Linked DNA regions of Homo sapiens. The protein of the gene in region 2 interacts with the protein of the main gene of each other region in a pairwise test. Each region holds a gene or a part of one and is shown on either strand. Other genes may lie near its edges.

Evidence for each region.
Region 1: the proteins of GMEB2 (region 2) and MOB1A interact in binary tests that used the Homo sapiens proteins (3 or more experiments, as listed by UniProt).

Annotation. Positions count from the first base shown.
Region 1 is NC_000002.12:74,152,011-74,155,178, forward strand, and holds the end of MOB1A (MOB kinase activator 1A), read right to left. Parts: 3' UTR 518-3,168; downstream 1-517. UniProt on the Homo sapiens protein: Activator of LATS1/2 in the Hippo signaling pathway which plays a pivotal role in organ size control and tumor suppression by restricting proliferation and promoting apoptosis.
Region 2 is NC_000020.11:63,589,028-63,592,843, forward strand, and holds part of GMEB2 (glucocorticoid modulatory element-binding protein 2), read right to left. Parts: intron 3,644-3,816; coding exon 3,506-3,643; intron 3,118-3,505; coding exon 2,995-3,117; intron 1,703-2,994; coding exon 1,062-1,702; 3' UTR 1-1,061. UniProt on the Homo sapiens protein: Trans-acting factor that binds to glucocorticoid modulatory elements (GME) present in the TAT (tyrosine aminotransferase) promoter and increases sensitivity to low concentrations of glucocorticoids. Also binds to the transferrin receptor promoter.

The DNA.
Region 1 (3,168 bases), on a different chromosome or scaffold from region 2:
GCCTGGGCAACATGGCAAAACTCCATATTTACAAAAAATACAAAAAATTAGCCGGACATGATGGTGTGTGCCTGTTGTCCCCGCTACTAGAAGGCTCAGAAAGAAGGATCACTTGAGCCTGGGAGGCGGAGGTTGCAGTGAGCCAAGACTGTGCCACTGCACTCCAACCTGGGCAACAGAGACCCCAGCTCAAAAAAATAAAATTAGTGTTAACTTGTACTGTTTAGCCACATTCATTAAGTTTTTAATTTTAACTCTACTATCGCACAACCAGGAATGTACAAGAGATCTGGAGCCTGATTTGCATGGCAGGAAGGAGACCACGTATTTTTGTTTGGGATGGGTTTTAGCCACTATCAGAGACATAGTTTGTTTCTTAGGGGTTCGGTCCCAGTAGTATGATACTTAGTTCATTTAGGAACTTCCTTTTTTAACGGCTAAGAAAACATTTTAGCTACTAAATGATATGCAAAGATAACTTTCCAAATTTAAGCTGTACTCAAAAATCCACAGAATCTGCAAAACTCTCAAGTTTCTATATTTAAATAGAAATGTGTGTTGATATACATACTTTAATCAGTCATTTCTTGCTTTCAATATATTTTATTCTGACGAAGTTACAAAAGTAGATACAAAATACTTTTTTTAGAAGTACAGTTAACTGACTTAGAAAAATAGATAAAGCCCCTAAGGATTTTAAAACACAACATAAATTTTTATGTAAAGAACATTTAAAAATATTTTAGATGGTAACCAAAACTAACTTACACAAACTATTTTTGATGTAGAATAGAATGCTGTTCTATAATAAGAAGTCTGTAGCACACTGGTAATCCATTTGGATCTACAGAATACTTGTTTGGAACAGAATCTGATAATGAGAGAAAACTCAAATGAATGTCAGTGCAGTTGCTTCAAAAAAATTACTGCTACCACATGTACTATCATCCCCCAAGGCCTTTTACAGTCTGAAATATCAAAATTGAAAGCAAAAATAGGATGACCAAAGGACTACTATTTTACCTCTTTTCAGAACTCTACAATAGTAGAAACTAAATTCCCTTATGGATCTCAGGGGGAAATAATGTGCCTGTTGAAGGGGCTCAGTGTTTGGTGTCCAGGCTGGCATTTTTCAGGTGAGGGTTTCATACTGACAGGAGGCAGGCTCCTAAAACAAGGCGGTAGCACCAGCACCATGACTAGGGCTGCTTTAAAACAAATTTCTAGGACTTACGCTCTTTGGGCCTGATTTGTTAATGCTTATGAGGTAATGATATTATGTTTGAGAAGCTCTACTTCTAGTATACCTCAATGCTCAGAGAGAAAGCCAACAATACAATCAGGAAACCACAATATTGACAAAACTTAGTACTACCACCAAGATTGTTCCTCTTGCCTTGGCACTACTAAAAAACTTTACCTTTGTTACTAAAGTCATGGTGAATACAGATTTTGCATTTCTCATGTAAGCAGCTATATAAGCTAGGGTTCTACAAGCCTTAGATGAAAGGAAAAACTTTGCTGGAAGCCCTGTAAAAATCACTTTATTCACAATCTGAAGAATGAAAGACAAATTTGGCTGTCAATACAAAAACTGTAGTACAAGGAAGTTCAACTGTTTAAAAATCTGCACATCACTGTACAAGTGTTTTTTGAAGGCCTGAAAATTAAAGCACCATAGGATTAACTGCATAATTTAGCAAGCACTCTCTACCCCATGACTGTAATCATGTATGAAGAGCAGAGATCAGACACTGAGAGGAGATGGCTTCTGATTAGCAAGGGGGAAGGGAGTGAGTGTTATGGAACAGGCAAACCTTGGGCATGGGGAGATAAAAGTGAGAAGAGTCAAAAAGATTGATTTCTATAGGCCGGGCACGGTGGCTCATGCCTGTAATCCCAACACTTTGGGAGGCTGAGGCGGGCGGATTGCGAGGTAAGGAGATGGAGACCATCCTGGCTAACACGGTGAAACCCCATCTCTACTAAAAATACAAAAAATTAGCCAGGCATGACTAAAAATAGAAAAAATTAGCTGGGCGTGGTGGCGGGCACCTGTAGTTCCAGCTACTCAGGAGAGGCTGGGGCAGGAGAATGGCATGAACCTGGGAGGCAGAGCTTGCAGTGAGCCGAGATCCCACCACTGTACTCCAGCCTGGGTGACAGAGTGAGACTCTGTCTCAAAAAAAAAAAAAAAAAAGATTGATTTCGTCAAACTGTTATCAAAGGTTGGCCCTCTAGCCAACTCAGGAAGGCGCCATCCTCTTCCCATTATCTCCCCTTCCTCCAATTCTCCTCCTCCCCTTGGCTCCCTAGCCTTGGAGGTAAACACTAATATTTCAGTGCACTGTTGGTTAAGCCAGATTGGCTTGGGAACCTGGTAATGTTTTTATTTTTATTTTAAAAAAGGACAGTCTTGAGTCTCAAAATACCAACACATCTCTGATTTATGTCCCATTTATAAGCTGCCTTTACTACTGTCCTGACATGTGATCGTCTTTCATTTGCTTTGGAGCTTAGTGGTGAAGAGAGGGAACATTTCCATAACTGAAAATAAATGGAGAAAAGTGGTAACTCTTTTGTTTGAGAATATTTGAAATACTAGAAATAATGAGGAAAGTACAAGCCTAGCTGAGAAACTAGTTTCATCACTTGTGGACTTAAAAAAGTAAAGCTAACAGGGTTTAAAGTTGAGAGGCAGTTCACATCCTAAGTGATACCTAGAAACCTGCTTTCTTGTTCGCAAATGATCAACATGAACATACAGAATGGCTGACATTTGGACCTTTGGATAAGCTTAAAACATGGATTGTGGAATGTCTAATAGAGGGCTTTTCTCTCTTTTTTTTAATAATGACTGTCCCACACTTTAATTCCTCAATGATATGTGGATGCTAACTAAATCAGATGAAATGTTTTCTTTAAAATTCTGTATATATTTAAGAATTTCTAGGAAATGATTATTTAAAATGGAGTTTCTAAGTAATTATTTTCTTTATAGTTTAGTGGAGTAAGAAAAATAAATCTAAAAAAAAACATCAAATCTAACCTTTATCAAAGCCATCGAGGAGGTTGGTAAAATACTTTGCAAAAATCACAGCTCTGAACCACATAGAATGCTGATGAACTTAAAGCTTTGCCAGTTTGGCAAGTCTTCCAGTATAATAC
Region 2 (3,816 bases):
AGGGCCAGCCCAGGGGCTGCATGGGGGCCGGGGGCCAGGGAGCCAAGGGCTGTTCCGTGGCCAAGCAGCCCAAGCTGAAGGGCCCACATGGGAATCCTCGACCTCCATAGTGACTGGTTCTGTTTATGCCTCTGCCCCAGGACTGAAGCCCTAGGGACACACCTCATGGATCTCAGACCCCTGGGAGGGGCCGGCTCAGGGACAGGCTGCCCAGGACCTCCGCACCCGGTCAAGTGCACTCACAGGGGCTCAGGGGCCACCCAAAGAGCTAACTCGGGAAGCCTAGGCACTCACCATTATTTTGGTTGAAAATGCTATAAATCTGACTCTTCCTAGAAGCCTACTAAGCAATTCACTTAAAAACACCCTCAGTACATGTGCAACAATGCCTGGACCACGCCTCGTCTGTGCGGCCCCTGGGCCACCTGAGCACCGGCTGGGGGCGGGGGAGGCAGGCACCCATCAGGATCTGCACCCCAAGCTCCGGGTGCATGTTCCCAACTGGAGGAGAACGGGGCGCCAGCCACACTAAACCTACAGAAAACTGTGGGAAGAAACCAAATCCATAGGATCCAGAGGTTTCACACTTGGGCTTAGCTCCCAAGTCATGAGTTAGTAACGTCCCCAGGGACCTGGCTGGGTGCAGACATGGGGGCCTCGTGACCTGCTGCACCGCGTCCAGCACCTGCAGGGTCGCGCTCGGCACCTGGCTCTGCTTCCTCTGTCTCTGCTGCACCCAGGCTCCCCCTAGCCCCCGCCCACCTGGCTCCTGATCAAGGCCCAATGTGTAAACAGTATTAATAAGCAACAGATGGAAAAATATATTTCCCAAGAAAAAAGGGGGAGGAAACGTGGGACCTGAAGACCGATTTTCCAGGTTGCTCTCGCTGTTCTGTCCCCTTCTCTCTTCTCGTGATTTGTTTTGGCGATTCCTCTCTTTGGTTCTGCAGACCACGTGACCCACCTGCCCGAGCCAGCCCTGCGGCCTCTGCCCGCTCCCTGCTGCCGCGGCTGAGAGACAGCCAGCCCTGTCCGTCCCAGGGGCCTCGCCCTCCTGTCGGCTACTTCCGCTCGTGGTCCTCTGCCATGGCAGCCACCTCAATGGTGGCCGTGTGCTCCTCAGGCCCGGGGGCAGCCCCTGCGGGCACTGTCACAATTGTGCTGGAGCCAGGCGAGGCCTGGGCCACGTTCTGCAGGGTGGGGCCCAGGCCAGGCAACGTGAGCAGCTGTAGCGGGCTGACCACCTTGAACACCGTGCTACCGTCCTGCACGGCGGCCGTGCTCAGGACCGTGAGGCTGGACGCGTCCGGGTGGATCTCCACTGTGCTGGGGTAGGTGGAGCCGGAAGAGGCCAAGACTGTGTATCCCCCGAGCAGCGGGGAGGCCGGGGAGCTGGCGGGGGGCGCCTGAAGGGAACCCTTGCCCAGGACGGTGGACGGCAGGGTGGACACCACTTTACCAAGGGGCACGCTGGTCAGCTGGGGGACGGGCACGCCCGGGCCAAGCGCCAGCTGGGCAGACTGGGTGAGCACCTGCGAGGCCATGGCGGCCGGTCCTGATGTGGCACGTGCAAGCCGGGGCCGCTTCACAGGCGGTGGCAGGGAGACCGGCGTCAGCGTCATGAGCACGTTGCTGAGGTGCTGGGACTTGTGCTTCAGCTCCTTGGCTCGGCGACGATGCTCATCACACTGCTGCTCCAGGGCTGCAGGGAGGTACAGATGGCATCACACAGGGGACGGGGGCATGGATGGCGGCATGCAGGGGATGGGGGCAGACACGCCACACCATCTGGGTGGCCCCTGGGTCAGTGGCAACCCAGGTCTGCTCACCTGATGCCACAAACCCAGATGACCACATGGCCGCCAAAGGTGAGGTCTGTGGGAGACGGGGCCCAAGATGGCCCTCGGGGTAGACACCAGCCTGTGCTGACCCAGGGTCTGCACTGACCCGGGGCCTGTGTGCAAGCGTGGCAATCCCGTCTCAGACCCTCCTGCACTGACCCAGGGCCTGCGTGCAAGCGTGGAAATGCCGTCTCAGATCCCCGCATGAGCTTTCACACACCCAGCGTGGAAAGTTGCTCTTGTGACATATTAAGAGAGAGAGGAGGAAAAGCAGCACATGTGGCACATGTGTTTAAACATAAACATGCACACACACATGCAGAGTGCACACACACAATGAACACAAACAGTGAACACACAAAGTGAAGAGTGAACACACAGTGCACACACACTGAATACACACACACTGAACACAGTGAACACACACACTGAATACACACACATTGAACACACAGTGAACACGCAGTGAACACACACACACTGAACACACACACAGTGAACACACAGTAAGCACAGACCCCAAGAGGAGCATGGAGGAAACGCACCAATATCAGGGGCTTGAGCTCTGAGCGGGGTCAGGACCAGCCCTTCCCATTCTCTGTCATTGTTTTTTTTTGAGACAGGGTCTCGCTCTGTCACCCAGACTGGAGTGCAGTGGTGTGATCTCAGCTCCCTGCAACTTCCACCTCCTGGGCTCAAGCAATTGCCTGCCAGCCTCCCGAGTAGCTGGGATTACAGGCACACACCACCATGCCCAGTTTTGTTTTGTTTTTTTCAGCAGAGATGGGGTTTCACCACGTTGGCCAGGCTGGTCTCAAACTCCTAGCCTGAAGTGATCCGCCCGCCTCGGCCTCCCAAAGCGCTGGGATAACAGGCGTGAGCCACCGCGCCTGGCCTCTGTCATTTTCTCTTAAATAACTACTTGGTTCATCACAGAAATGCCGGTAAATGTAAGCTTAGTGCAATGGAGAGGTCTGACTACCTCACTTAAGCTTCAGGTTGTTTTCCTCGCACAACAGCAGTGCGGAGAAGCTCGCCGTGGTGGCGGTGACTCCAGGAAGTGCAGGTGGATGCACAGCCGTGGGGTGAGCCCGTGGGCTCCAGGTCCTCAGCCTACCGCCCAGGGGACGGGACGGGGGTGGTCTCAGCATACCTGCCAGGTCCCGGGCGTACTGCTCCCGCGAGCGGTCCATCTGGCACTTGTGGCTGGCCAGCACCTTCTTCACCAGGTCCAGCATGCCGAAGTTCTGCACGATGTTGTTGAGAAGTACAGCATCTTAAAGGGTAACGCGGACACTCAGTGAGAGCCCAAGCCCTTCCTAGAGAGCCACGCGGACGCTCGGTGAGAGCCCGGGACCTTCCTAGAGAGTCACGTGGACGCTCGGTGAGAGCCTGGGCTCTTCCTAGAGAGTGAGAACACCACCACTGAGGCTGCTCCTCAGGAACCCAGCCAGCCAGGAGCTCAGTTCAGAGGGAGAAGACTGAGATACATCAAGGCGATCCTCCCACCAAGTTCAGCCTCAGCACAGCAGGAGTCCCAAGCCTAGATTCAGCCTCCAACCCAGCAGCACAGAAGGGCCTAGGGGCAGGAGGGCCAGTGGCCTCACCTCCTGCAGAGACTCCTGGGCTGAGTAGCCAGCAAGAGGGAAGATGCAGCTTCTCACCTCGAAGCTGCAGGGGAGGGTCCTGGACCCGCTGCTGCAGGCCTCTCATGGTCTCCACCAGCTCCTGGTGGAACTCCTGGATGACCTCGTCCAGCAGGCCGGCGTCCTTCAGCCCCCGCCAGAAGGTAAATGTGTCATCTGTGAGGGAAGGAGTGGGTTCAGTGGGCAGGGAAAGTGCTGCTACACGGGGCAGCCACCACAGCCACAAGGACATCACCATAGCCACGAGGACACCATGCCAGAGCCGGCAGCGCCTGGCACTGTGCTGGGCTTGCACTGCCCAGACACATCCACAGTGCCAAAATCTAGCA